Homo sapiens: one gene and its partners. The protein of the gene in region 1 purifies or fractionates together with the protein of each later gene. This does not show direct contact. Each region holds a gene or a part of one and is shown in the gene's direction. Other genes may lie near its edges.

The links.
Region 2: the proteins of PATL1 (region 1) and TNRC6A purify together in Homo sapiens (affinity purification with western blotting, with the first as the bait; one study listed by BioGRID). This does not show direct contact.
Region 3: the proteins of PATL1 (region 1) and PHF20 fractionate together in Homo sapiens (co-fractionation; one large-scale study listed by BioGRID). This does not show direct contact.
Region 4: the proteins of PATL1 (region 1) and EDC3 purify together in Homo sapiens (co-immunoprecipitation; one large-scale study listed by IntAct). This does not show direct contact.

What each region holds. Positions count from the first base shown.
Region 1 is NC_000011.10:59,659,038-59,666,662, reverse strand, and holds part of PATL1 (protein PAT1 homolog 1), read left to right. Parts: intron 1-7,193; coding exon 7,194-7,411; intron 7,412-7,625. UniProt on the Homo sapiens protein: RNA-binding protein involved in deadenylation-dependent decapping of mRNAs, leading to the degradation of mRNAs. Acts as a scaffold protein that connects deadenylation and decapping machinery.
Region 2 is NC_000016.10:24,786,539-24,794,163, forward strand, and holds part of TNRC6A (trinucleotide repeat-containing gene 6A protein), read left to right. Parts: intron 1-2,693; coding exon 2,694-5,279; intron 5,280-6,934; coding exon 6,935-7,111; intron 7,112-7,625.
Region 3 is NC_000020.11:35,776,925-35,784,549, forward strand, and holds part of PHF20 (PHD finger protein 20), read left to right. Parts: intron 1-5,381; exon of another isoform or gene 5,382-5,685; intron 5,686-7,625. UniProt on the Homo sapiens protein: Methyllysine-binding protein, component of the MOF histone acetyltransferase protein complex.
Region 4 is NC_000015.10:74,662,394-74,670,018, reverse strand, and holds part of EDC3 (enhancer of mRNA-decapping protein 3), read left to right. Parts: intron 1-5,310; exon of another isoform or gene 5,311-5,636; intron 5,637-7,625. UniProt on the Homo sapiens protein: Binds single-stranded RNA. Involved in the process of mRNA degradation and in the positive regulation of mRNA decapping. May play a role in spermiogenesis and oogenesis.

The sequences.
Region 1 (7,625 bases):
TTTGCCTTACCTATAAAATCAGGTATTCTGTAAGCCTTGCCCCTTCCAGCTATATGATCGATGACTACAGGTTGCCCCTATGAGGGATTCAAATGTTTAGAGAAGTAAACATTTAAGAGAGATTTAAATTAATCCTAGATGAGAGGAATTTTTATTTGTATAACATATAACTTATGGAAAACTAGTGTACTAGTAGAAAATTCAGATTCTAGGATGTGGGTATATGTGTTTCAAAATTTAGTCTATCACTAGTATATAACTTTGCAACTTATAGTATCTTCAAAATATAAAGCTTTTTATAGCAAGAATTTTGGGGGTCAAGAAAGGACTCATAAGTTAGAAAAGTATGCACAGATGAAATTTTGTCCATCCCTGGGTATAGATACATATTATTTATTTATTTATTTATTCTTTTTCGAGATGAAGTCTTGCTCTGTCACCCAGGCTGGAGTGCAGTGGCACGATCTTGGCTCACTGCAACCTCCGCCTCCTGAGTTCAAACAGTTCTCCTGCCTCAGGCTCCCGAGTAGCCGGGATTACAGGTGCCCGCCACCACACCGAGCTAACCAGGCTGGTCTCAAACTCCTGACCTCGTGATCCGCCCATCTCGGCCTCCCAAAGTGCTGGGATTACAGGCCTGAGCCACCGCGCCCAGCCTATAGATACATATTTTAAGAGTTGGAAAAAGTTTAAAAACTGAAGAGCCAAACTAAGGTTACAGGCCACGGGGTTATAAATGCCAAGATGGAAAATTTAGGAAGTAAGCTTATATGATAAAGTTTGAGAACACATGTTACTTAGAACAGGTGTAGAACAAGTGGAGTAATAAATTGAAATTTAAATTTTTAAACTGTATACATACACATATATTTGTTTTGAGACAGAGTCTTGCTCTGTCACCTAGACTGGAGTGCAGTAGCATGATCTCGGCTCACTGCAGCTTCTGCCTCCCCAGTTCAAGCAGTTCTCCTGTCTCAGCCTCCCAAGTAGCTGAGAACACAAGCGCCCGGCTAATTTTTGTATTTTTAGTAGAGACAGGGTTTCTCCATGTTGGCCAGGGTGGTCATGAACTCCTGACCTCAAGTGATCCCTCCTCAGCCTCCCAAAGTGCTGGGATTACAGGTGCAAGCCACCACGCCTGGCCAAAACTGTATATTTTTAAGCAAATGAATAGGTAAGAGTCAATGCAGATATGTTTGCTTAGACTTGGTGCTGGAAAGCAGCAATAACAGCGTTTATGTTCAAATGTATAAATGTGTGTGATTCTTTTGTAGTCGCAACACTTCTGTCTGTGCAACAAATACTCCAAGTTAAGTCATAAGGAAAAAGAGAAAATTTAGCAATAGTCAGTAATCCCAAGATGTTGAATATCAAAAACAAATAAGAGGCCTTAAAGTATTATAATGGTCACTGGTTTTGCAGTGACCTAATACATTTATTAAAGCTTAGACTGACTTGAATAAACTGGCAAAAATGAAGGTGTTTTAATATTGTCAGTCATTTGTAAAATTCATTAGAGAACTAAAACTTTGTTATGATTAGAAGCAGCAAGAAAAGTGTTGAAAGTAGAAGCTAGACTCATGATGGAAAGGAATCAAAGACCTTTTGGATTATAGGCATGGGTTAGGAGATGAGATTGTCCAGGAGGATAACATGATCCAAGATGCTATTATCTCTCTCCATGGAGATCACAGGCAAAGAGATGTAGAGTGGAATTACAAAAGCAGGAAACTGATGTGAATTGCAAATTATATTTGGAAGATAGTTTAGTGATAATCAGTAGGACACAATAAGCTATTTGTGGTGGTTCAAGCCCACAGCTCTCAGCACTTTGGGAGGTCAAGGCAGGAGGATCACTTGAGGCCAGGAGTTCAAGACCATCCTCGGCAACATAGTGAGACTCTTTCTCCACAAAATTTTTTTTGAAAAATAGCCAGGCATGATGGTATGTACCACTTAGGAGGTTGAGGCTGAGGCTGGAGGATCCCTTGAGCCCAGGAGTTCAGGGCTGCATCAGCTATGATGGTGCCACTGCATTCCAGCCTGGGTAACAGAGCGAGACCTTGTCTCTAAAAAGTTAATTAAATACTTTAAAAATAGAATACCATAGAAGCTACCAACATGTGCTTGTTTCTAGAACTCTTTTTCTATTAAAATACTGTACTGAATGTTAACCATTTTTTCAACAAATTCTTCAGTATTAAAATGAATTAGCTAGAATTGATTTATAGACATTAAAATGAGGCAGCATTGTACCATGTTCTCAGTTTTCAACCTGGACAGAAGAGGAAGAGTCATACCTTCTCATTGACTTCCAGAGTGCTATGGACAGTCTTTTTTTCCTGAGTTTCTATTTTTTCTCATAAGATGGGAATAATATTGCCTTAAAAGGATGTTAGAGTGTCCGGAACGGTATTTTATATGATGGGAAAGAAGAAAAGTGTACACGTGCTGAAAAAGCCATTAGGTTTACACAGTAAAAGAACAGGTAGTACAAAGTTAAGGCAATTAAATAGCATATGATTAGCCCACTTTGTACCTTAGGGCCAAAGGGTGATTAGAAAGGATTTTTTGGCCAAGAAAGTTTATAATAATATAGAGAAAAGATTTCCAAAGGTGAGCCCTTTCCCTTGAGAGTGTAATGTACTGGAATTGTAAAGTGAAGATCTTAATTCCTCATAACAGCTTGGTGTAAATACTATAAAAAGAAAATTGTTTTCCAAGTCAACCTGTGACTTCTTTGATACTCCTCTGCAGGTTGATATAAAGCTGGTATAGAGAGTTTAAATCAAGAGGTGAAATGTCAGACCTTTGACATTTGTTTTGATTTTATGATTTTTAATTCATATAGCGGGCATCTGGAATAATACCTGCTATTACAGTAGACATTTTAGGTCACTGGCTACAAATGGTCACCTTTCCTTAAGAAACTAGTCTTCTGCATGAAAAAATGTTTGCATCATCTTAGAGCAATAAATAGTGTTGCAGTAATCCCAACTCCTTCTCTAAAAATAAAAGCTTACACTTAACATGGTGCTTATTATGTGCTAGGCACCATTCTAAATATTTTACATATATTGTTAATCCTCATAGCAGCCTTGTGAGATAGGTACTATTATTATCCTCATTTTAACAAATGAGGAAGAGTGACGGGTTAAGTAACTATAGACACAATTACTGTAAACTACTAGTTATGTTTAATAGTTTTGGGGGAGTCTTTGGAAATCTCCTGCCTCCACTTGGAAGGAATCACCCTCCTTCCTACCTCCCTTTTATTGATAGCTACTATAGTCTTTAGAGATTGAGATTGCCTTAAAATTAAATCACTTCTTCCTTTTTATTTTGTTTTCATTCAAAACTCCCTGAGACAGGCTTCAGGGGTTATTACAAGTATAAGTTTATAGAAGCAGCCAGGAATTCAGTAACCCGTATCAGAGTATAGGTTAGTTCGTTATTACGGATAATCTCTTTCCCTTCATTTGTCTGTTATTCTTTTGCCTACCTTTTATCATTTTGACCAATAATGGACTCAGGTCAAGCACTGGCATATCTAAGTAACTATATTTTTAGGTCATTTGAAAAAGATACAGGGTGAAATATTGTTTTATAGTAAGGGCACAATATCTCTAAAATACTACTTCAGATAATTTTTTACAAGAGTAAGAAAAATCTAAAATGATGATGATGGTATTTTATGGCATAGATTCCTCTGGTTACATGTTTGAAAATGTAACAATCAATTCACCAGAGATCTATTCTCACAGAATATGGCGACTTAACCAATATTTTTAAAATATTATTATTAAGGGGAAATAGATTATCCATATTTGATAGGATTTGGTAAAGTTAGCAAGCATGAATACTGGAAGTAGTGATAGAAAAGCATGCAAATTAGAACTCTACTGCATTAGAACAAATCCACTAACAAATTAACTTCTTAAATTTGGGAAGTAAATGTTTTTACAAATCCCTCAATTCAGGATGATAGATTCCCACTCTTGTGGCATTGCTAAGTTAGTAAAGTTGCAAAAAACAATTTATCCTGTCCCAGCTTACTGTTCCTTACCAAGGATGACACAAATATGAATGTCACATTTGGTTTTTAATTACATTATTCTTTAAATATTTTCTTTCATATGACTAGTCATTTAAATTAACACTGTAATTTTCATTTAAAGTGGATTTTTCCATTTTTTGGAGCACATCAGGATAGGCTTATCAGAGACCATCATCATAAAATGGCTACCTTAAATTCTTTTCTGTAAGATGACAGTTTAGAGGAAGAGTGCCACCTGACTAGTCACTCAGGTAAGAGGAAACTATTGGGTGGGAAAGAAAATACCACATAATTATAAAGAAGACCCATGTCCCGGAGGCTTAAGTAAGGATATTTTTATAGCTTTTGCCCACAGTCTTTATCCCAGTGATGGCACAGTGATCCACAACTTAAGGAATCCCTTACCACAACTAATACATAAATCAACCAAACTAGGCAGTGGGTCCTATGATACCAAAATTATATATTTGAAAGTCCCACTTCCCTCACTCTTTGGATCACTAGTATTATGTGATACATCGTTGTATGATTAAAAATTACATATATATAGCAAATTTTAACTGTTAATGTAATCTGATTCTAAAAGGAAATTAGTTTATTTAAATAGTCACATAAAATGCTAAGATATGTATGATGTTATTACAGTATTAATTATTATATTGGAAAATTGTAAATAATCCAAATGTTTACCAGTAGGGGATAAATTACATTATAGTTTAGCAATAAAATGCAATCTTATGTAGGTATTAAAAAGAATGAGTTACTATCAGTAGTTATGCCTGTGTGCATGCATGAAAAGATGTCCAAGACATATTGCTTAAATAAAAAGAAACAAGTTAACTTTATAAACTTAACACAGCTTAAAACTGTTTAAAACTTAACACAGCTGTGGAATTGTGGGGAACTTTCACTTAAGTTACATGTGTTTATGGTGTTTGAATTTTTTAAACATGTATTTTCTCTGAAAGCAGAAAAAAGAAAGTCTCTGTTTCTGTGTTGGTTATAACCTGTTATCCCTGTCTGTTGAATTTTATAAAACATATAAAGGATGTAACTAAAAAAAGAATACCATATAACATATACAAAATAATACTTTTTGTGGGTTAGAAAGTAATGCATATAGAGATGAGGTAAAGGAAGAAATAAAATGAAAGGATTATTTAGGAGTAGCTCCATTGAGGAGGAGGAAGAAGTTTCACATTTGAATACCTGAAAAGAAAGGCCAGAGGCAGTGGCTCAAGCCTGTGATCCCAGCTCTTTGGAAGGCTGTTGCAGGTGGATTGCTTGAGCCCAGGAGCTTAAGACCAGTCTGGGCAACATGGGGAAACCCCGACTCTACAAAAAATATAAAAATTAGCCTGGTGTGGTGGTACAAACCTGTAGTTCCAGTTACTTGGGAGGCTGAGGTTGGGGGAATCACCTGAGCCCGGGAGGTTGAGACTGCAGTGAGCCAGATCACGCCATTGCACTCCAACCTGGACGACAGTGAGACCCTGTCTCAAAAAATAAAAATAAAAATACTGAATGGAGCAAAACTGTGAGTACAGCTTTCATGATGGAAGCAGAATGGAATAAGATTGGAGAGAACTGGAGTGAGATGCGTTGGAAGTAAGGTCTAGCTCCAGAGCAGCTGATAGAGGGTTCTGAAGATTGTAATCTGTGCTGTAATGGGATTCCAAAACAGAAAAAATGATGCCAACATACCAAATGCAGAAACAACCTTAATGTCAGTGCTACAGACTTTATAGTAGTGTGCAGTAATAGCAGACATAGTTAAGATAAAAGAGGAAATGCCCCTTCCTCTTCCCTAGCCTGTTTTCAGCACAGCAGCCAGAGTGATTCTTTTAAAAGTTAAGCCAAATGAAAATTTCCATTGGCTTCCCATTTCAATCATAGTGGCCCAGAATGAGCTCCCTCCTCATGACTTCTTGACCTCATTTTCTTCTACTCTCCCCACCCTGCTCATTCCATTCCAGACACAGTCCTCCTTGCCGTTTCTCAAAACCATCAATCTCTCACCTTAAGGCCTTTCTTTATACTGACTGTCCCTCTGCCTGGAACCCTCTTCTCCCAGATATCCAAATTGCTAACCCTCTTACTCTTTAGAATCTTTGCTCAAATGTCATCTTCTCAATGAGGCCTACCTCTGACCATCTATTTAAATTTTCAATCTGCCTTTCTTCCTTTATATTCCTACAGCAATTTCATCTTCTGGTATAGTATCTAATCATTATGCTTATTGTCTATCATCTCTCTCTTTCCTGCTTGCATGAAAGTGTTATGAAGGCAGAATCTCTGTGTCTTTTTGTACACCAATGTATCCCATGCGTCTAAAACAGGGCTTGTCACATAATAGATGCTTACCAAATATTAATTGAATGGAACGAATGGATTCAAAAGCATGTAAAGAATGTGGCACTTAAAATCTAAGAGGAAGTTGTATGCTAATGCTATGAGTTTTAACTTCCCTTTAAAGTTTTTGCTTGAAATGTCATAGAATCTCAAAACCAACTAGTAGTACTATACATATCTATCACCAATTTGGGAAACAGTTTCAGAATATAGTTTGGACATTATTGATAATGTTTTAAGCTATTAATTCACATGTTTGAATTTTATTCCTGGTATAATGTTATTTGCTTTTACTTATAAAAAGCATGCTTTACGTGTCCCTTAGTTTAAACCTTATTTCCTGTTTCTAAGTGTAAACTTAACTTTCTACCTATCTTCTGGAATTATTCATTTGCTTAGCAGAAGAATTGTGTAGGCCGGGCGTGGTGGCTCATGCTTGTAATCCCAGCACTTTGGGAGGCCGAGATGGGTGGATCATTTGAGGTCGGGAGTTTGAGACCAGCCTGGCCAGCATGGTGAAACCCCACCTCTACTAAAAATACAAAAATTAGCCAGGTGTGGTGGTGGGCGCCTGTAGTCCCAGCTACTCCAGCTACTTGGGAGGCTGACGCAGAGAATTGCTTGAACCCGGGAGGTGGAGGTTGCGGTGAGCCGAGATCACGCCACTGCACTGCAGCCTGGGCGACAGAGTGAGACTCTGTCTAAAAAAAAAAAAACAATAATTGTGTAAAACTTTTTTGTACCACTATGAACTATTTCTTACATGAACTGTGTCATCTTATAGATGATGATTGGCAGGAAGCACATGAGCGCCTGGCTGAATTGGAAGAAAAGCTACCAGTGGCAGTTAATGAACAAACAGGCAATGGAGAGAGAGATGAAATGGACTTGTTGGGTGACCATGAGGAGAATCTGGCAGAAAGGCTCAGTAAGATGGTGATTGAAAATGAACTAGAAGATCCAGCTATTATGAGGGCAGTGCAGACCAGGCCAGTTTTACAAGTAAGTAAGTTACTGTGATTTGAGAACTATAGCAGACTAAAAATTAAAGTGAAGTATTGAACTTTGCCATTTTATTTTATCTATTATAATGAGAGATTTACATATACCATAGAAAATTGATAATATATTTCCTGATGATAGAAGTTCTAGAGATAAACTTGGGGAATAATGTATATTCTGGAGCCCTATAATTTCGTATTCTAAAGCAGCTTGA
Region 2 (7,625 bases), on another chromosome or scaffold:
CTGCTGACTTCGTGATCCTCCCGCCTCGGCTCCCTAAAATGCTGGGATTACAGGCGTGAACCATCACGCCTGGCCAGTACAGAGTACTTTTAATAATCTGCACCACAGTTGTGTGAGATTGGTACTAATACTGTTTCGTTTTTGTTGTTGTTTTTGTGTTTTGAGATGGAGTCTCACTCTGTTGCCAGGCTGGAGTGCAGTGGCGCCATCTCGGCTCACGGCAACAGCCTCTGCCTCCGCGGTTTAAGCAATTCTGCCTCAGCCTCCTGAGTAGCTGGGACTGCAGGCGCCTGCCACCACGTCCGGCTCATTTTTTGTATTTTTAGTAGAGACAGGGTTTCACCATGTTGGCCAGGATGGTCTCAAACTCCAGACCTCGTGATCCCCTCGCCTTGGCCTCCCAAAGTGTTGAGATTACAGGCATAAGCCACGGCGCCCGGCCTGGTACTAATACTGTTTCTACTTTAGAGATGAAACTAGGCACAGAGATTGAGGATCTTGCCATGGTCACACAGCTAGTAAATGGTAGAGTGCCTCTTAAACCCAAGCATTCTGGCTACCCAATCTGTGCTGTTAATCACTACATCAAATTGACCCTAACGAGGCACTTATTTGCAGCCAGCACTGAGCTTAATGCTTTACATATGATGATAAAATTAACAAAAGAACCAGGTTAAGAAGTATTGTTTATCTTCTGGTTTTGCAGATTTGGTCATACAGAGTCCAGACTTGAATCTTGGTGTTTCTAGAGTCCTGTCTACATTCTTAGGCACCTTGCTTTATGAAGGATTCTGACGAATCCTGCCTTTCTCACTTAATTTTCCATAAATTAACCTGTGAACCTCAGTTTTGTCATCTGCAAGTGAAGGTAATACCTATCCTCTAGTGTGGCTCTAAGGATTCAGTGATAAAAGTGCGCACAAAGTTGTCAGACATAGTACTGAATGCCAAACATTTGTTGATGGTGCTGGTGCAGATGTTAGTGTGTTGGTTTGCTTACACCCAATGAGACTGACTTATTGTTACCCTTTATTTCATGAGAAATTCTCCTTATGGGCACTGAAAGATGGCAAATCTTCTTTGGCAGCTTTAGGAATCATTAAAGAAATGATTCTTAAACAGGGAGTGGAAATTAGAGTCACTTATGGAACTTTGAAGTATATTATTTGATGCATTTATATCATTTCCGGTCTCTCTCCAGTCACTTTTCCAGACTGTTTCCAGATCTTCTTTTGCTTCTTAATGATTGTGCTTTGAGAGCAAATGATGCAAATTGAATCTGATTTTCCATTTTAGCAAATCACCTTAATAGTGACTTCTTTTTATCTCCTAGGCCTACAACCCCTGAAGGTTGGCTCATTAGGTCTGGGACACTGCCTTGAAGATATATACTTAAAAGCACTACGTGTGATTCTGATTTGTACTCTAGTAGAAAACTGCAATATAATGTACCTCCTCAAGACAGTCAGAATGCACGTGACTTATGCAGGTTAATGGCCCTGAGGAGTGTCTGCCTACCAGATCCTTAGACCAAGTGAGAGTTAAGAATCTGGGGAACTATTCAGAAGCACTAGAACTGCCCTACCTGTGGTAAAATAACTAAATAGTAATACATAGCAGGAAGTCCAAGATTATAGGATTGTATGACTGGTCATTAAACATCTCCAGTGTCAGCATTTGATTTTTTGAGATCATAATAATTCTGTGATCTTCAACATAACTAACCATTACTTTTCTGTTCTTTTATATAAATGTGGTTAGGAAGGTAAATTAAGAAAATTTTATGAGAGGAAGTTGAACTGAAAATACTGTTACTTGGCTGTAATATTTCAGGTTGAATACGGACACTAATGAAATAGAATGTAATGATAAAAGCTTTCCAATTCTTACCATTCTTATAAATTTTTATAAACTTGTTACAATACTCAAAACAGTTGTGTGGAAAAGCTATACTAGAAAACAGAGGGTGGAAAAATATTTCTGATACATTTTATCAAATTTTGGCTATTCACTTCTCCTTACCTGTCTTTCCATGTCAGGCTTCTATGCCTGGGTTGTTCCGTTATCCTAATGCGTAGCTGCCTCCTAGACCTTCTTGACTCCAAAATTCTTTTTTTTTTTTTTTTTTGAGACGGAGTCTCGCTCTGTCACCCAGGCTGGAGTGCAGTGGCACTATCTCCGCTCACTGCAAGCTCCGCCTCCCGGGTTCATGCCATTCTCCTGCCTCAGCCTCCCGAGTAGCTGGGACTACAGGCGCCCACCACCATGCCCGGCTAATTTTTTGTATTTTTGGTAGAGATGGGGTTTCACCATGTTAGCCAGGATGTTCTTGATCTCCTGACCTCGTGATCCACCCACCTCGGCCTTCCAGAGTGCTGGGATTACAAGCGTGAGCCACCACGCCCGGCCCAAAATTCTTTTATTTACCGATATGTTAACAATGTATTCATTCAGCAAGTATTTATCAAGGGGCTGTTATGTCCTCTAGGATCTTAGGATAGTATCAGTTGAACATAGAAAGTTGGTGGCTAGAAGATAACCAGTGCCCTTGTCACCATTCTGCCAAGGATCATAGCTTGTTAAATTGAGGAGCCACATATATTTATAACATATTCGTCATTTTTCTTAGATTTTAGTATCATTTTGAAATGGCCTAACACTTTATAAATAGTTGTACTTCTCCTTTATCCTAGATATAAACCACAGTACTTCAGGATCCCATTATGAAAATTCCCAGCGGGGACCTGTGTCTTCTACAAGTGATTCTAGCACAAACTGTAAGAATGCTGTTGTAAGTGACTTGTCGGAAAAAGAAGCATGGCCCTCAGCCCCTGGCAGTGATCCGGAGTTGGCTTCAGAATGTATGGATGCTGATTCTGCCTCCAGTTCTGAATCAGAGAGAAACATCACTATCATGGCTTCAGGGAACACAGGTGGTGAAAAAGATGGCCTTCGGAATAGCACTGGACTTGGTTCCCAAAACAAGTTTGTAGTTGGTAGCAGCAGCAATAATGTGGGCCATGGAAGTAGTACTGGGCCATGGGGTTTTTCCCATGGAGCCATAATAAGCACATGTCAGGTCTCTGTGGATGCTCCTGAAAGCAAATCTGAAAGTAGCAACAATAGAATGAATGCTTGGGGCACTGTAAGTTCTTCATCAAATGGAGGGTTAAATCCAAGCACTTTGAATTCAGCTAGCAACCATGGTGCCTGGCCAGTATTAGAGAACAATGGACTTGCCCTAAAAGGGCCTGTAGGGAGTGGTAGTTCTGGCATTAATATTCAGTGCAGTACTATAGGCCAGATGCCTAACAATCAGAGTATTAACTCTAAAGTGAGTGGTGGTTCTACCCATGGTACCTGGGGAAGCCTTCAGGAAACTTGTGAATCTGAAGTAAGTGGTACACAGAAGGTTTCATTCAGTGGTCAACCTCAAAATATTACCACTGAAATGACTGGACCAAATAACACTACTAACTTTATGACCTCTAGTTTACCAAACTCCGGTTCAGTGCAGAATAATGAGCTGCCTAGTAGTAACACAGGGGCCTGGCGTGTGAGCACAATGAATCATCCTCAGATGCAGGCTCCATCAGGTATGAATGGCACTTCCCTTTCTCACCTTAGCAATGGAGAGTCAAAAAGTGGAGGCTCTTATGGTACTACATGGGGTGCCTATGGTTCTAATTACTCTGGAGACAAATGTTCAGGCCCTAATGGCCAAGCTAATGGTGACACTGTGAATGCAACTCTAATGCAGCCTGGCGTAAATGGTCCTATGGGCACTAACTTTCAAGTTAACACAAACAAAGGAGGTGGTGTGTGGGAATCTGGTGCAGCAAACTCCCAGAGTACATCATGGGGAAGTGGAAATGGCGCAAATTCTGGAGGAAGTCGAAGAGGATGGGGAACCCCTGCACAAAACACTGGCACTAATTTACCCAGCGTTGAGTGGAACAAACTGCCTAGCAATCAGCATTCCAATGATAGTGCAAATGGCAATGGTAAGACGTTTACAAATGGATGGAAATCTACTGAGGAAGAGGATCAGGGTTCTGCCACATCTCAGACAAATGAGCAAAGCAGTGTGTGGGCCAAAACAGGAGGTACAGTGGAGAGCGATGGTAGTACAGAAAGCACTGGACGCCTTGAGGAAAAAGGAACTGGGGAAAGTCAGAGTAGAGACAGAAGAAAAATTGATCAGCACACATTACTCCAAAGCATTGTAAACAGAACTGACTTAGATCCACGTGTCCTGTCCAACTCTGGTTGGGGACAGACTCCTATTAAGCAGAATACTGCCTGGGATACAGAAACATCACCTAGAGGGGAACGAAAGACTGACAATGGGACAGAGGCCTGGGGAAGCTCTGCAACACAGACTTTTAACTCAGGGGCATGTATAGATAAGACTAGCCCTAATGGTAATGATACCTCATCTGTATCAGGGTGGGGCGATCCCAAACCTGCTCTGAGGTGGGGAGATTCCAAAGGCTCAAACTGCCAGGGGGGGTGGGAAGATGATTCTGCTGCTACAGGAATGGTCAAGAGCAATCAGTGGGGGAATTGCAAAGAGGAGAAGGCTGCATGGAATGACTCGCAAAAGAATAAACAGGGATGGGGTGATGGACAAAAATCAAGCCAAGGGTGGTCTGTTTCTGCCAGTGATAACTGGGGAGAAACTTCAAGGAATAACCATTGGGGTGAGGCCAATAAGAAATCCAGCTCAGGAGGTAGTGACAGTGACAGGTCCGTTTCCGGTTGGAACGAACTTGGTAAAACTAGTTCTTTCACTTGGGGAAACAACATAAATCCAAATAATTCATCAGGATGGGATGAATCTTCTAAACCTACTCCTTCCCAGGGATGGGGAGACCCTCCAAAGTCTAATCAGTCTCTAGGTTGGGGAGATTCGTCAAAGCCAGTCAGCTCTCCAGACTGGAACAAGCAACAAGACATTGTTGGATCTTGGGGAATCCCACCAGCTACAGGCAAACCTCCTGGTACAGGCTGGCTGGGGGGACCTATACCAGCCCCAGCAAAAGAAGAAGAACCCACAGGCTGGGAGGAACCATCCCCAGAATCTATACGTCGCAAAATGGAGATTGATGATGGAACTTCAGCTTGGGGAGATCCAAGCAAATACAACTACAAAAATGTGAACATGTGGAACAAAAACGTCCCAAATGGCAACAGCCGTTCAGACCAGCAAGCACAGGTACATCAGCTGCTAACGCCTGCAAGTGCCATCTCAAACAAAGAGGCAAGCAGTGGCTCTGGTAAGTTTCTATTTTATGAAATCAAGCCTTGTTTTAACTTACTGTTATTATAAGATTTGTATAACAAAGTACTTGGATATGCACACAAAGGCTGTTCTTACTGTAATCCAGAAGCAGCTTGAAAAAAATTATAGGGGTGATGTTTACCACCAGAGAACAGAACTCCACTTTTGGCAGTGTTGTTTGAGTCCTGCACACTTCATTCTCTATTAGAAATGCAAGAGAAGGCGAATTGGACAAAGGCGGTCAAGTGGGAATGCTGTACACTTCTCCAAGTTGTTTTTGAGTTAGGCCTTAACTTGTGGTTTTATTATTTGACTAAAATATCTCCAGAAATAAAACAAGTATCTCATAAATACAGTACTCTCTAAACATTAGGTTGTATATTTGGCTTTAGAAGGGATTTTTTTTTTTAAGTAGGTGAGAAATCCAACTCTACTTAGATACAGTATATATGTTTGTGTATTTAAAACATTTGACAATACCTTTCTAGTATATCCTTACTTTCCTCTCTAATAATGAACTAATTCCTATCTCTGCAAATTTTCCCAACAACATTTTTGTTAAGTGTGATTGGCTACATTGTCTTTGTTAATAAAAGTTTTATTGACTTAATAGTCTCATTGGAAGTGGATATGGGAGTGCTTTCATGAGCTAACTTTTTGGCACTGAATTTTTTTTTTTTAGTCTAAGTATAGTTTGTTGTATTAATTTAGGTTTGATTCTTAAAAGGAAGAAGTATGTATCTAAGATGAAGCCTGTTGGCTTTGATTTTTTTTAATGAAACATTTATGGCTTTTTTTTTTTTTTTTTTTTTTTTTGCTTTGGACAACCTCAGCCTAATACTTCAGATTTTAAAATAAGCATTGTTCAGCATATGTAAAAAGTAGGTGACCCATTATTGTTAGCTGGGTAGTAAATTGTTTTTCCAGTGTAGGTGGTGTGGAAGGGGTACACTTGTGGCACAATTTTTTTTTTTTTTTTTTTTGGAGATGGAGGCTTTCTCCGTCACCCAGGCTGAAGTGCAGTGGCATGATCTCGGTTCACTGCAGCCTCCACCTCCCAGGTTCAAGCAATTCTCCTGTCTCAGCCTCCTGAGTAGCTGGGACTACAGGTGTGTGCCACCACGCCCAGCTAATCTTTGTATTTTTAGTAGAGACCAGGTTTTGCCATGTTGCCCAGGCTGGTCTCAAAATCCTGACCTCAGGTGATCCACCTGCCTCAGCCTCCCAAAGTGCTGGGATTACAGGCATCAGCCACTGTACCCAGCTGGTACAGATGTTATACATACACTGTCACCCAGCTTATCACCTGCTCCAATTTACAAGGTTTGGTTTAGAATGACTTGACTTTTTCAGGAATTAAACTGATGCTCAAAGGAGAGTGGTTTTCCATAACTATGCAAAAATCAGCTCTAGGTCTAGAGGGTAATTATGAAAAAAGTTAAAAAAATTCTCACCTTATATTAATGGGAAATAGTTTGTCTTTTTTTAACATAAAACAGATGCCATCTTTTTGCCTATCACAGTATCATTATTCAGTACATAAACATGAAGTTCTTCATCCTTGGTCCCTAAGTTTTCTTTATTGTCCCTTATTCCACTGCACCTCCTTACCTTCTATGCTGATGACTTCTTTTCCCACACTTTCTAAAGGCTGGGGTGAGCCCTGGGGGGAGCCTTCTACTCCAGCCACAACTGTGGATAATGGTACTTCAGCATGGGGTAAGCCCATAGACAGTGGTCCCAGCTGGGGGGAACCCATTGCTGCGGCATCCAGCACATCCACGTGGGGCTCCAGCTCTGTTGGTCCACAAGCATTAAGCAAATCTGGTAAGTTATTGACAATGCCTGGTAGCTGTTATGTAGCAGTGGCGAACACTCACTGACTATAATTAAATAATTAGATAAGGTTTCTATGTTATTTATAATATATTCATATAATGTAACATGATAGATGATGTTCAGTATTTTGCTCTTTGATTTTGTAACGTGGTTTATTCTCTTTCTGAATTTTCCTCTTTTCTCATATTTCTTAGAACTGTAACTATTCATTTGCATATACTTCATCAAATCTAAATTATATTTTACCAAATTAGGTTATCTAGGAAGAGTCTACTAGCAACTTTCATGCCATCCAGCCTGAGAGGCCAACTAGTGTAGCCATGAGGACACATATTCAGACTGTCAGATGATTCCCTGAAAGTTACAATTAGCATAGTTCAGAAAAGACCCAAGATTGAAATTAACATTGTCATTATCCCATAGGCTGTGTACAAGATGCCCGGTAGGAATCCCAAGGGCCATGTGTGAAGATAAGATGCTTTCTGCTTAAGGCTTTGAATAC
Region 3 (7,625 bases), on another chromosome or scaffold:
AGCTTGTTGCAGCAGATCTGATTTCTTTCATGTGCTCCCTTGGGCAGCCTGCCAGTTATTCCCTTGTCCAAGTCACTTCTGCCATTATCTTTTTTTCTAGCTGAGGCAGCCAGCTTGTTCTCAACCCAACTTCAGCGTTCTTCTTGCTTCCATGTCTTCTTCCAGTTCCATGCTGTATTTCATTCAGAACTACCTGAAATCCTCAAAGAAGTCTTCCTGAGTTCTCCATTCAATGTTTGTGACTTCTCTGCCTTACCAAGAAGGAGTCTGTACCTTATATACCCCGTATTTACTTGTCAGTTCTCTTATCTAATGTATACTTAAAAAGGGACTTCATTTCCTCCATACCACAGCTTTGTTTTTTGGTTTGAATTAGCAGGGCAGGTGGCATGAAATTTAAAGAGGAAGCAAGCAGGTTGTTTGCCTTTGGCTGGGATTTGGGGAAAGTATGAGATGTAATGTTTTTAGTCCCCTTCCCCAAGATCTCCTGTATCTGTGGGAATCAGTTGCCTGGTATGTCTTCCTGGATTGTAAAGGTGCTTAAACTTCCTTTCTGAAGTTTGAAAGTGTATCCTAAGTGCAAATACCATTTGACAATTACTCGTGGTTGGGTGGGTGCAGTGGCTTACGCCTGTAATCCCAACACTTTGGGAGGCCAGAGTGGGAGGATTGCTTGAAGCCAGGAGTTCAAGACCAGCCTGGGCAACAAAGTGAGATTCCTGTCTCTACTCCCCCACCAAAAACAAAAAAGTAGTCAGGCATGGTGGTGCGTGCTTGTAGTCCCAGCTCCTTGGGAGGCTGACGAGGGAGTTCAGAGTCTGCAGTGAGCTAGGATTGTACCACTGCACTACAGCTGGGTGACAGCACGAGACCCCATTGCTTCCAAGTGCTCTTCTAGGAACACACAGCCACAAAACCCAGAACAAGGAATTGTTAAGGATAATGATAAGAAATCTGTATTTCAAATAACTTAACAAATGAATAAAACCAACAGTTCTTTGAGAGCACCTGATTATTGTCAAAGACAGTTGCTGAGGGGGCTTGGAAGTCAGGACTTAAAGGTATATTTAACCTCTGGAGTTTTCTTCTTTCATCATCTTCCTAAGAAATAATAGGGAGGATGTTTACATTTTTCTTGATAAAGTCTTTTTATTAATTTTATTTATTTATTTATTTTGAGAAAGGGTCTTGCTCTGTTGCCTAGGCTGGAGTGTAGTGGCGCAGTCTTGGCTTACTGCAACCTGTGCATCCTGAATTCAAGCGATTCTTGTGCCTCAGCCTCCTGAGTAGCTGGGATTATAGGTGCGCACCACCATGCCCAACTAATTTTTTGTAGTTTTAGTAGAGACAAGGTTTCACTATGTTGGTTAAGCTGGGACATTTTTCTTGATAAACATTCTTTAAACCAAAATGTATGCTTAGTCAAGATCCTTGATTGGATTATGAGCCTAGAGAAAAGGAGGGTGATGTCTTTGTCTAATCCATCTTTGCCAGTGACTGCCCCTTACAGGCTATTGACTATAGGGTAACCTAATGAAAATTGAGACAGGCACTGTGGCTCACGCCTGTAATCCCAGCACTTTGGGAGGCCAAGTCGGATGGATCACCTGAAGTCAGGAGTTCAAGACCAGCCTGGCTAACACACAGTGAAACTCCGTCTCTACTAAAAATACAAAAAATTAGTCAGGCGTGGTGGCAGGTGCCTGTCATCCCAGCTACTAGGGAGGCTGAGGCAGGAGAATGGCTTGAACCCGAGAGGCAGAGGTTGCAGTGAGCCGAGATTACACCACTGCGCTTCAGCCTGGGCAACAAGAGTGAAACTGTGTCTCAAAAAAAAAAAAAAAAAATTGAACCCTTAATTTGTAATAATGCTTTGACAACTTTGCTAGATCTTGGGCTAGGTCCTACCTGGACCTTCCTCTCTTTTGCCAAATAATGGAACTAATGAGCTGGCAGAAATCCTGTACAATTTTAGAAGCCTAATATGAGTGACTAAATGTAAATAGGACAGTTTTAGGAAAGAGTGGTGGAGCCTGAATCAGTGAACTTTGGGGAAGGAGCAAGAGGAGGGGCTTGGGATTTAAACAAAGGGTTTTTTTTTGTTTTGTTTTGTTTTTTGTTTTTTTTTTGAGGTGGAGTCTCACTTCGTTGCCCAGGCTAGAGTACAATGGTGCAATCTCGGCTCACTGCAACCTCTGCCTCCCGGATTCAAGTGATTCTCCTGCTTCAGCCTCCCAAGTAGCTGGTACTACAGGTGTGTGCCACCTCACCCTGCTAATCTTTTATATTTTTGGTAGAGACTGGCTTTCATCATATTGGCCAGGCTGGTCTCGAACTCCTGACCTCATGATCCGCCTGCCAGGGCCTCCCAAAGTGCTAGGTTTACAGGTGTGAGCCACTGCGCCTGGCCTAAACCAAGGTTTTTATTCAGTGATAGTTTATTCCATGTCAGGAACATAATTCTCAGATTTTAAAGGCTGACTTCCAGGTATCTTAGAAGGATATTTGGGGGTCTCTGTCCTAGTAGAGACCTGATTTTCAAGAGGTCTCTTTCTCATATGGAAAAAGTCCATAGCTGGTGGATTGACATTCCTTTCTTTCTTTTTTTTTTTTTGTTGAGGCGGAGTCTCACTCTGTCGCCCAGAAGTGCAGTGGTGCAACCTCGGCACACTGCAACCTCTGTCTCCTGGGTTCAAGCAATTCTCCTGCCTCAGCCTCCTGAGTAGCTGGGATTACAGGTGCCCGCCACCATGCCTGGGTAATTTTTTGTATTTTTAGTAGAGATGGAGTTTCACCATGTTCGCCAGGCTAGTCTTGAACTCCTGACCTCAAGTGATCCACCCGCCTCGGCCTCCCAAACTGCTGGGATTACAGGCGTGAGCCACTGTGCCCGGCCAATGCCTTTCTTGCTTCTACAGGTGCACAGGTGTTGGGATTTCGAGGTTGTGGAAACTTGGTCTGGAAATGTGGGCATTTTACAATAATGATAACTATAGCTAGCATTTTTGGAGCACTGTCTTAAATGTCATTGAATCCTTACATCTGACCTATTATCCTGTCCTAACAGAGGAGGAAACTGAGATGAGTAATTTGTCCAAGGTCATTTGGCTAATAAGCAGGGCCTCGATTGGAGTCCAGGTTTCTTTGCCTCCTGTCCCAGTGCTCTTACATCCCTCTCTCTCTAGCTAACGTGCTTTTTCCCCTAGAAATTTGAGTAAGTCATTTTAACTACAAATCAAACAGGTGGCAGCCTGGAAACCAGCACTGAGGCACTTTGCCACCCTCACCCCAGATTTCTTTTTTTTTTTTTTTTTTTTTTGGGACGGAGTCTCACATTGTTGCCCAGGCTGGAGTGCAGTGGCACAATCTCAGCTCACTGCAAGCTCCGCCTCCCGGGTTTACGCCATTCTCCTGCCTCAGCCTCCTGAGTAGCTGGGACTACAGATGCCCTCCACGATGCCCGGCTAATTTTTTGTATTTTTAGTAGAGACAGGGGTTTCGCCATGTTAGCCAGGATGGTCTCGATCTGCTGACCTCATAATCCATCCGCCTCGGCCTCCCAAAGTGCTAGGATTACAGGCATGAGCCACCATGCCTGGCTCATTCTTTTTTCTTTTTTTTCTTTTCTTTTTTTTTTTTTGAGACAGAGTCTGACTCTGTCTCCCAGGCTGGAAGGCAGTGGCATGATCTTGGCTCACTGCAGCCTCCGCCTCCCGGGTTCAAGTGATTCTCCTGCCTCAGCCTCCTGAGTACCTGGGATTACAGGCGAACACCACCACACCCGGCTAATCTTTTATATTTTTAGTAGAGACGGGGTTTCACCATGTTGCCCAGGCTGGTCTTGAACTCCTGATCTCAGATGATCCACCAGCCTTGGCCTCCCAAAGTGCTGGGATTACAGACATGAGCCACTGGTGCCTGGCCCTTTTTTTTTTTTTTTTTTTTTTGAGATGGAGTTTCACCTTGTAGCCCAGGCTGGAGTGCAATGGCACGATCTTGGCTCACTGCAACCTCCGCCTCCCGAGTTCAAGTGATTCTCTTACCTCAGCCTCCCAAGTAGCTGGGATTACAGGCATGTGCCAACACGCCTGGCTAATTTTCTGTTGTTAGTAGAGATGGAGTTTTACCATGTTGGTCAGTCTGGTCTCGAACCCCTGACCTCAGGTGCTCCACCCACCTCGGCCTAAAGTGCTGGGATTACAGGCGTGAGCAAGATTTTATTCTTTTTTTTTTTTCTGAGATGGATTCTTGCTCTGTCACCCAGGCTGAAGTGCAGTGACACGATCTTGGCTCACTGCAACCTCCTTCTCTGGGGTTCAAGTGATTCTCATGCCTCAGCCTCCTGAGTAGCTGGGATTATAGGCCTGCACCACCACATCCGGCTAATTTTCATATTTTTGATAGAGACGGGTTTCACCGTATTAGCCAGGTTGGTCTCCGCCCGCCTCAGCCTCCCAAAGTGCTGGGATTACAGGCGTGAGCCACTGTGCCTGGCCTTCATTCTTGACCATGCAAAACATCCTTTAATTGTAGAAGCCCAGTTCTCCCAACTCAAGCTGCCTTTCTACATTTTTCTTTCTTCTTCAATTTTTGTTGTTGTTGTTGTCGTGGTCAGATACACATAATATAAAATTTGCCATTTTAACCATTTTTAAGTTATATAGCTTACTGGTATTAAATAATGTTGTGCAACCATCACCACTCTCCATCTCCGTAACTCCTCAAAATTGAAACTCTGGGCCGGGTCCAGTGGCTCATGCCTGTAATCCCAGCACTTCGGGAGGCTGAGGCAGGTAGATCACTTGAGGTCAGGAGTTCGAGGCCAGCCTGGCCATCATGGCAAAACCCCATCTCTACTAAAAATACAAAAATTAGCTGGGCGTGGTAGCACATGCCTGTGATCCCAGCCACTAGGGAGCCTGAAGCAGGAGAACTGTTTGAACGCGGGGGCGGGTGGAGGTTGCACTGAGCCAGGATTGCTGCACTGCACTCCAGCCTAGGTGACAGAGCGAGACTCCATCTCAAAAAAAAAAAAAATTATAACTCTGTACCCATTAAACACTGACTCCCTCTTTCATGAACCTCCTCCCAGCCCCAGCAGCTACCATTCTACTTTCTGTCTCCATGTTTTTGAATACTTTTCTGCCTTTTTTGAGGCTCCTGGGCATGACTGGTTTGGGTTGCTTGACTGTCCCTTGGTTCCATGGAGTATTGAATTCTGTGTAATGTGCTTTGATGAGTAGGAAATTGGTCGTGCTGTGACCTATATGATAATTAGACATGTGCAACTTGTAAAGGCAAGGTAATTAAAGAGGCCACTTTTCTTTTTCTTGTTTTGTTTTTTTTTTCTTTTTTTCTTTTTTTTTTCTTCTCTTTTTGAGACATTCTCACTCTGTTCTCCAGGCTGGAATGCAGTGACATCATCTCAGAGCTGACTGCAACCTCTGCCTCCTGGATTCAAGCAATTCTCCTGCCTCAGCCTCCCGAGTAGCTAGGATTACAGGCGGATGCCACCATGCCCGGCTAATTTTTGTATTTTTGGAAGAGATGGGTTTTCACCATATTCGCCAAGCTAGTCTTGAACTCCTGACCTCAAGTGATCCACTCTCCTCGGCCTCCCAAAGTGCTAGGATTACAGGCCACTGTGCCTGGCCAAGAGGTCACTTTTCATGTCCAGGCTGCATGGTATGTGGTGGTGAGGATGTAGGATTTGGAGGTGGAATGCCTGAGTTTGAGTGCCTGTATTTGCCACTCTCTTGGGGCCAAATGTAATTTGGGCATATGGCTTAAACCTCTTGAACCTTTCATTGTGTTATGCACATTGGAGGCAGAACTTTCCAGCCTAGCAAGTTACTTAACCTATATGAGCCTGTTTCCTCACCCAAGTATTATCATAACTGTCTGACATCAGTCATTGGAAATATCAGTAAATGTTACCCTTTCCCTCCATTTCCTAATCTGTAAAGGAAATTAAAGAAACCTGGTTTGGCTGGGCACAGTGGCTCATGCCTGTAATCCCAGCACTCTGGGAGGCCAAGGCAGGAGGACTGCTTGAAGCCAGGAGTTTGAGACCAGTCCTGGCCACAGAGTGAAACCTCATCTCTATAACACAGAAAAAAAAAAAATTAGTTTGGCATGGTGGTGCACGCCTTGTAGTCCCAGCTCCTTGGGAAGCTGAGGTGGAAGGATTGCTTGAACCCAGGAGTTCAAGGCTGCAGTGAGCTATGATCCTGCCACTGTACTCCAGTGTGGGTGACAGTGAGAGCCTGTGTTTAAAAATAAAAAAAAGAAAAGAAAAAGAAAACATAGTTTATAGAGTTTTCCTGGCTTGAAGATTTATGAGGAGTTGAGTATATGTTACCATTATTACTTTTGTTTTATTCCTCTCAGAAAATGTGTGTAAAATTCCTCCATGGGCCCTTCAGTGGGCCTTGTTAGTTTGTATTTCATCCATAACTTTATCAGTAGTGTATGCCAAAGAAAAAGACTCTTACTTTTTTTTTTTCTTTATGATGGACTCTCACTCTGTTGCTCAGGTTGGAGTGCAGTGGCACAATCACAGCTGTCTTGCAGCTTCAACCTCCTGGGTTCAAGGGATCCTCCTGCCTCATCCTCGTGAGTAGTTGGGACTACAGGTGTATGCCACCGCGCTTGGCTAATTTTTTTTTTTTTTTTATTATTTATAGAGACGAGGTCTTGCTATGTTGCCTAGGCTGATCTCAAACTCTTGGGCTCAAGTGATTCTCCTGCCTCGGCCTTCCAAAGTACTGGGATTGGCCGGGCATGGTGCCTCACTCCTGTAATCCCAGCATTTTGGGAGGCCGAGGTGGGCGGATCACCTGAGGTCAGGAGTTCGAGACCAGCTTGACCAACATGGAGAAACCCCATCTCTACTAAAAATACAAAAAATTAGCCGGGCATGGTGGCACATGCCTGTAATCTCAGCTACTCTTGGGAGGCTGAGGCAGGAGAATCGCTTGAACCCAGGAGGCGGAGGTTGTGGTGAGCCGAGATCGTGCCATTGCACTCTAGCCTGGGCAACAAGAGTGAAACTCCGTCTTAAAACAAAACCAAACCAAAGTACTGGGATTATAGGCATGAGCCACTGTCCCGCCCTTACGTTTGTTTGTGTGTTTTTTTTTTTTTTGAGACAGTGTATCGCTCTGTCCCCCAGGCTGGAGTGCAGTGGCACAATCTCGGTTCACTGCAACCTCCACCTCCAGGGTTCAAGCGATTCTCCTGCCTTAACCTCCCGACTAGCTGTGACTACAGGTGCCTGCCACCACGCCCGGCTAATTTTTGTATTTTTAGTAGAGATGGGGTTTCACCATATTAGCCAGGCTGGTCTTGAACTCCTGACCTTGTGATCTGCCTGCCTCGGCCTCCCAAAATGCTGGGATTACAGGCGTGAGCCACTGCACCCGGCCACATTTTTTTTCCCCTCATTTTCACACACACAAAACTAACAGTAATCCCTTAATATTTTTAATGTTGAAATATCCCAAAGACTTTTTTTTTTTTTTTTTTTTTGAGATGGAGTCTCACTGTGTCTCCCAGGCTGGAGTGTGGTGGCATGATCTCTGCTTACTGCAACCTCTGCCTTCCGGGCTCAAGAGATTCTCCTG
Region 4 (7,625 bases), on another chromosome or scaffold:
AAAAAAAATTAGCTGGGCGTGGCAGCGTGCACCTGTGGTCCCAGCTACTCAGGAGGCTGAGGTGGAAGGATGGCTTGAGCCAGGGAGGCGGAGGTTGTGATTAGCCAAGATCATGCCACTGCACTTCAGCCTGGGTGACAGTGTGAGACTGTCTCAAAATGAACAACCAAAAGAAATTTTAAATGAGTATTCATTAACTCATTTAAAATTATAAGCTAGAGTCATGCTATGGCAATACCTTCTAAAAGGCACAATTTAGAGTGAGCTAGGTCTCTCTAGACCCCACTCAGAAAGTTTATTACATAAAATTCCGGATACTTCTTGCTACCATTGTTGCTCCTCACACTGTGGTCCTGGTGGCAATGTAGTAAGGTTTTAGTGTGCTGGGTGAATTCTATTAGTAGCTTGTGGTGTGACACCTGTGTCAGGGGCCAACATTTTAAGTTTTGGAGATGCCTGATTCAAGTGAATAAACAACTAAATTAAAACTAATTTTTTTTTTTTTTTGAGATGGAGCCTTGCTCTGTTGCCCGGGCTGGAGTGCAGTGGTGTGATCTTGGCTCACTGCAACCTCCACCTCCCATGTTCAGGTGATTCTCCTGCCTCAGCCTCCCTAGAAGCTGGTACTACAGGCACTTGCTGCCATGCCCGGCTAATTTTTTTTTTTTTTTTTTTGAGACAGAGTTTCGCTCTTATTGCCCAGGCTGGAGTGCAATGGCGTGATCTTGGCTCACCGCAACTTCCGCCTCCTGGGTTCAAAAGATTCTCCTGCCTCAGCCTCCCGAGTAGCTGGGATTACAGGCATGTGCCACCACGTCTGGCTAATTTTGTATTTTTAGTAGAAACGGGGCTCCATGTTGGTCAGGCTGGTCTCAAACTCTCGGCCTCCCAAAGTGCTGAGATTACAGGCATAAGCCACTGCGCCCGGCTAATTTTTGTATTTTTAGTAGAGATGGGATAATGCCATGTTGCCCAAGCTGATTTCGAACTCATGACCTCAGTTGATCTGCCTGCCTCGGCCTCCCCAAGTGCTGGGATTACAGACGTGAGCCACTGCACCTGGCCTAAAAAAATGTTTTAATGTATGTAATATACAGTTTCAAGGTAGTTTCCTTTGGTGCATATGAAACAACTATCTGAAATGACGATGTTTGCAAATATGAGACTGAAATTCAGTTGTGACTTCTGTATCCTTAGAAAAACTGTAGAATGCTTGGATAGAAAATGATTCTTTCCATTTAGACTTTAACCTTTTTCTTTCTTTCTTTCTTTCTTTCTTTCTTTCTTTCATTCATTTTTGAGACAGGGTCTTGCTTTGTCACTCAGGTTGGAATGCAGTGATACGATCACAGCTCACTACAGCCTTGAACTCCCAGGCTCAAATGATCCTCCCACCTCAGCCTCCTGAGTAGCTGGGACTACAGGTGTGTGCCACCATACCTGGCTAGTCTTTTTACTTTTAGTAGAGACAAGGTCTCACTATGTTGCCCTGTCTGAAAATCTTTTTTCTTTTAGCAGAAATTGTTGATTTGTTAGAAGTTCAAATAGGCAGTTTATAATCTTCCGTGCACTTGAAGATGACCCTTATTAGCAATTCATATTATTTTTTTCTACACATTTTTCCCCGTTATTAACGTCTTACATTTGTATGGTATACTTGTTATAATTATTGAACCAATGTTGATGCATTATCATTAAACAAAGTCCATATTTTATTCAGATTGCCTTAGTTTTTACCCGGATGCCCTTGTTTCAGGATCCTGTCCAGCATATCACATCATATTTGGTAGTCATTTCTCTGCTTGGCTCTTACAGTTTCTCAGACCTTCCTTGTTTTTGATGACCTAGACATTTTGATGAATACTGGTCAGGTATTTTGTAGAATGTCTCTCAGTTGGTACTTGATGTTTAAATCATGATTAGACTGGGGTTATATGTTTGGGGGTGGAAGACAACAGAGGTAAAGTACCATTTTCATCACCTTGTGTCAAGTGTATATATTATCACCATGGTTTATAACTTTTGATGTTCACCTTGATCACCTGGCTAAAGTAGGATATATCTAGTTTCTCCTCTGTAAAGTGACTCTTTCTTCCCCTTTACATATGTACTCTTTGGAAGGAAATCACTATGTGCAGCCCACACCCAGGGAGTGAGAAGTTATGTCCCCTCTCCTTGAGGACACAGCATCTTCAGACATTACTTGGAATTCTTTTATGCCAGAGATTCCTCTCTTCTCCCCCATTTGTTTATTTATTCAGTCATTTATTTATATCAGCATGTACTCATGGGTATTTATTTTATACTTTGGCTTATAATTCAATATTACTTTATTTTGGTACTCAAATTATTTCAGTTTTGGCTAGTCTCCAATCTTTCACTTGGATCTCATGTCCCTTTGACATACTCCAATCATTGTGGATTTTATTTTTTTTTTTTTTTAGTACTTAGGTACTTTCTCACACTGAAAGATGCTTACTACTACCACTACTACTACTACTACTGCTGCTGCTGCTGCTTCTCCTCCTCCTCCTCCTCCCTCCTCCTCCCTCCACCCCCTCCCTCTCCCCCTCCCTCCTCCCCCCTTCTCCTTTCTTTCTTCTTCACTAGGGATGCTCATTGCTCCTGGGTGTCACCCTTATAGCTGACAGCAAGAAAATGTGTATACTTCTCTGCAGAGTTCACAGAAAAGAAAATATATGTGTGTATATTTAACCAGCATATATATACATATTTAAATATTTCTATATGTAACTATGTATATTGTACTATACTAAGTATGAGTTCATACTGATGTCTCCAACTTTAATCCATTACCACATGGATCCTTCTAGCCTTCTCCTTTTGCTTGTCTGTTACTTCTCACTCCAACAGTGAGAAACCTGTCTCCTATTGTCATTCATTCTTTACATAATTATTCAATTCCAGTATACATGTATAGTGGTATCAGAATTATTAACTTGTATCGCCATTCCTGTGGGAGACTATCAAACAGAATGTGGTGCTTACGTACTGTTTCTTTTGCCTTTCATCTGACTCCATTCATTTCTAGAGTTATTTAGGTCTCCCATTTCCTTCATTGACTTGTTTCATATATTCATAATACAATTAATTTGTTTTATCACATTCTGCATTCCATCCTGGGATCTTCTAACCTCCTAAATGATTTTTAAAAATTTGCAAACACTAAGGCTCACTCTTTGTGCTGTAAAATTCTGTGGGTTTTGACAAATACATAGCATCATGTATCTGTCATTACAGTATTAAACAGAATAGTTTCATTGTCCTAAACAATCTCTTGTGCCTTACCTGTTCAACTTCCCCCACTTCCCCCTGGCAACTACTGATCTTTTTATTATACCATCCCTGCAGTTTTGCATTTTTCCAGAATATCACATAATTAAAATCATACAGTATGTAGCCCTTTTCAGACTGGCTTCTTTCACTTAGCAAGATGCATTTAAGATTCATTCATGTCGTTTTGTGACTTGATAGGTCATTTCTTTAATTGACGGATAATGTTCCATTGTGTGGATATATCAATTTGTTTACCCATTCACCTATTGCAGGACATCTTGGTGGCTTCCAGGTTTTGGTTATTCTGCTTTTGCTGTTTTGTCAGTTTCCTTTTTCTAGATTGTTAACTGTACATAAATGAGGTAAAGAGATCATAGGGCAGTAAAATGTTACTATTTTTCAAGAAACTTATGTAGAATCCAGATTAGTTTGGAAAATGTTTGTGGCCTGGGAATGGCAATAAGACGTGGCTCAGAATAGGTTTCTGATAGAAGGTAGAGTTATAATTATTTTTCCACTCATTGAGCCCTGTAAGTAAAAAGGTCTGCCTTAGAATTTTCTCCAGTTTATGTACATTGATATTGAGACTAGTAGATTGATGAAGCTATAGAAATATAATCTGTCGGCCGGGTGTGGTGGCTTATGCCTGTAATCTTAACACTTTCGGAGGCTGGGACGGGCAGGTTGCCTGAGCTCAGGAGTTTGAGACCAGCCTAGGCAACATGGTGAAACCCCGTCTGTACACAAATACAAAAAATCAGCTGGGTGTGGTGGTGGGTGCCTGTAATGCCAGCTACTCAGGAGACTGAGGCACAAGAATTGCCTGAACCTGGGAGTCGGAGGTTGCAGTGAGCTGAGATTGTGCCACTGCCCTCCAGCCTGGGCAACAAAGCAAAACTCTGTCTCAAAAAAAAAAAAAAAAAGGAAAGAAAGAAATATAATCTGTCTTCAGTTCTGGCTTTTAAGTGTTCTTTCAGGATTGCAATAAGGAGTTGAGGAATTTGTTGGTTTATAATAGTTAGCTAATCCAACACTGATGATTTAGCACAAGCAGATTTTAATCTCTTTTCGGGTGGGAGTGGGTTTAAAGAATCATGTAAAGAATAGTTTTTCTGTGACCATTCAGAATGTTTGTCAAATAGACATAACATCAGTCCCAGGGAGCAGAGGGAAACCAAGCCTTGTTTAGGGTGCAGCTCTGTGTATGGGTATAATTCATATTTATCAAATCCCATGTCACAGCTGAAAATGGTGACCATGAGGGGCAGATGAAAGGCATCCCTCTCTGAAATCTTAGTCTATGAGCTTGAATAGTCATTGTAACATGCAGTTGAATAAAAATTTAACAGTTAAGTTAAGGCTCTTTTGCCTGTAGAACATGAAAGTAGATAGCTGAGGCTGGGCATGATGGCTGATGTCTCTAATCCCAGCACTTTGGGAGACTGAGGTGGGCAGATCACCTGAGGCCAGGAGTTCGAGACCAGACTGGCCAACATGACGAAACCCTGTCTCTACTAAAAATACAAAAAATTAGCTGGGCCTGGTGGTGCATGCCTGTAATCCCAACTACTTGGGAGGCTGAGGCAGGGAGAATTGCTTGAACCCGGGAGGTGGAGGCTGCAGTGAGCCGAGATCGTGCCATTGCACTCCAGCTTGGGCAACAAGAGTGAAACTGCATCTCAAAACAAACAAAGTAGATAGCTGGCCTTTAACTCATTTATATTTAGAGAGAGGTGGTCCTATAGGCATGACAGTGCCTCTGTTTAGTGCTGATTTCCCTTTTTCTCTTTGTTACTGGAGGTGGAGAGAAATGAGGGATGGAATTGAACCTTTTAAATGGAAAGATGGTCGATATTATCTTGTTGCAGTATGGTTGGGCTTTAACGGTCTGTTCATTTTAACAGTCATCCCACCACCTGAGGCAGGAAGTGAATTTTGCCAGGTTTTCATGGTTCTACTGAGGTTTTCTTGACTTTTAAACTTCCTTGGATGTGCTTCATATATCTAATAGGCTTGAAAACCCAGGGCCTAGAATTTGAGAGTTGAGAAGAAGGTCCCATATATTCTCAGGCACCTTCTCATGATGCCTGTTTAATCTGGCAGTAAAACATTTGTAGTTTAACATTCAGGTACCCTTTAGTGTGATAAGTGCAGGACAAAGTTCCCACTTACAGTGTGTGTGTGACAAAAACCAATAAATAAGTGGCACTGAGGGTTACACAACAATGGGTTTGTTACAAGTTGTCCTGGCCAAAGGGCCTCTGTGCCAAAGGGTGGCAGAAAAACGGCACAGGAAGGCAGCCAGCCTGCAGTACTTGCATGGCCCTTGTAATTGAAAGGTAAAGAAATCTGGGAAGACTGTTTGTCTTTTCCAAGGGAAGTGCTTTTCTCTCGCAGTGGCCAAAGGCCAGTTTAATGCAGAGCCAGGCCCTTTGGGATGAGTAAGCCAAGTACTGAGACAGCTTGTTCACTCAGGACTTCCTAATATTTGTATTAAAGTATGAGGAAAGGGAAGAATAAGAGACAACTGAGCACATTAGCCTGCCTTGCATTTATTTTATGTTCTCTTATCTTTCTCTTACTGACCTGTGATGTCAGTATTTCCTCTTGGGAAATATTTTTCACACTCTGCTTTCCTGACAGTGTTTAGAACATAGCTAGTCCTTAGTGTCTATGTCTCAAATGAATGAATCAACTCTGCATTTAGAGGAGTACAGGAAAACACCTGAAACCTTCTTCATACAACATCTCTGGGTTTTGTTGTAAGTTATGTTTGTAGAGTCCTACAGTTGAGCCAGAAAATGATGACCAGTGCCCAGCATCATTAAGGCAGAATTAAGGCGTCTCCCACTGTGGACCCTGTTAGTCTTTATAGTGGGGCACTTTGTCAACATGCTGTGAACGAACTTTACAGCTAGTCATGTTTGTTTTCTTTACTTTTCTACTTTGCATTTCAATAGCTCCTCATCATGTGGCATGATATGAAGTGGGTACTATTTATTAGCTTTTTTTTTTTTTTTTTTGAAACTGAACAAAAGTTTTCTTTCTATGCTGCACTCTCTCCTCCCAAATAAAAGTTGCGTATCTCTTAACGCAAAACGCTTGGGACCAGAAGTGTTTCAGATTTTGGATTTTTTAAAAAGGATTTTGGAGTATTTCTGGAATACATACCAGTTGAGCATCCCTAATCCAGAAATCCAAAATGCTCCAATCAGCATTTTCTTTGAACATCACGTTGGCGCTCAGAAATTTTTGGATTTTGGATGTTTGGATTAGGGATGCTCAGCTTGTGCTTTTGAACATTCATATTGGTGTTCAGTGGTTAGCGCACTGCTTAGGGCTAACAAATACTGGGCTAGTGGTTAGAGAAGCAACTTATGCTTTTCTTTTTCTTTTTCTTTACATTTTATTTTTTATTTATTTATTTATTTTTTGAGACGGAGTCTTGCTCTGTCACCCAGGCTGGAGTGCAGTGGCGCCATCTCGGCTCACTGCAACCTCCACCTCCTGGCTTCAAGCGAATTCTCCTGCCTCAGCCTCTGGAGTAGCTGGGATTACAGGTGCCTGCCACCACACCTGGCTAATTTTTGTATTTTTAGCAGAGACAGGGTTTCACCATGTTGGCCAGGTTGGTCTCGAACTCCTGAGCTCAGGTGATCCACCCGCCTTGGCCTCCCACAGTGCTGGGATTACAGGTGTTGAGCCACTGCGCCAGGCCAGCTCATGCTTTTCAAACTTTAGTTCCAGGATAACTGGCCTTCTACCAGTGTCATTTGGCAAGTCTGACCTGCCTTCAGAGTATTTGGGTCTTTGGATTCTAGATTCTTTCCTGTTTTCTCCTATAACTGTTTTTGTGCCTCTACCTGTTCCTCTTTAGCAGTGTCTGTATCCTGTTTCCTCTGAGCTTTATTCTTGGTCACCTGGTTTCAGGAGCTTTGGGTTTTATCTGAATGGGAGTGATTTCCCATTTTGCTTCCTTAACCCTGTCTTCTCCTTCACTGATCAACTGCTTATTTTCATCAGTCATTGTAATAGTTCCAGGATAGTTCATTTTCAGTTCATATTGGACATGACTGAAGTTTTTCCACTGAAGCCCTTGCTTCGTAACTCTTTTATATTATATTATTGTCAACAACTTTATCTTCCTGGCCTTTTCAGTCATGTAACAAAGTTGGCATGATTTTTATTGCTTTTTCTTGTAGTTAATCTCAAGTTGCCCTTTTTTTATAACCTCTTTTTAGACTTCTAACTTTTGATTGGCTAGTGTTTGCTTTTTAAAAAAAAAATATATATATATATATATTGCTGTTTTTATTTCTTAATTCAGC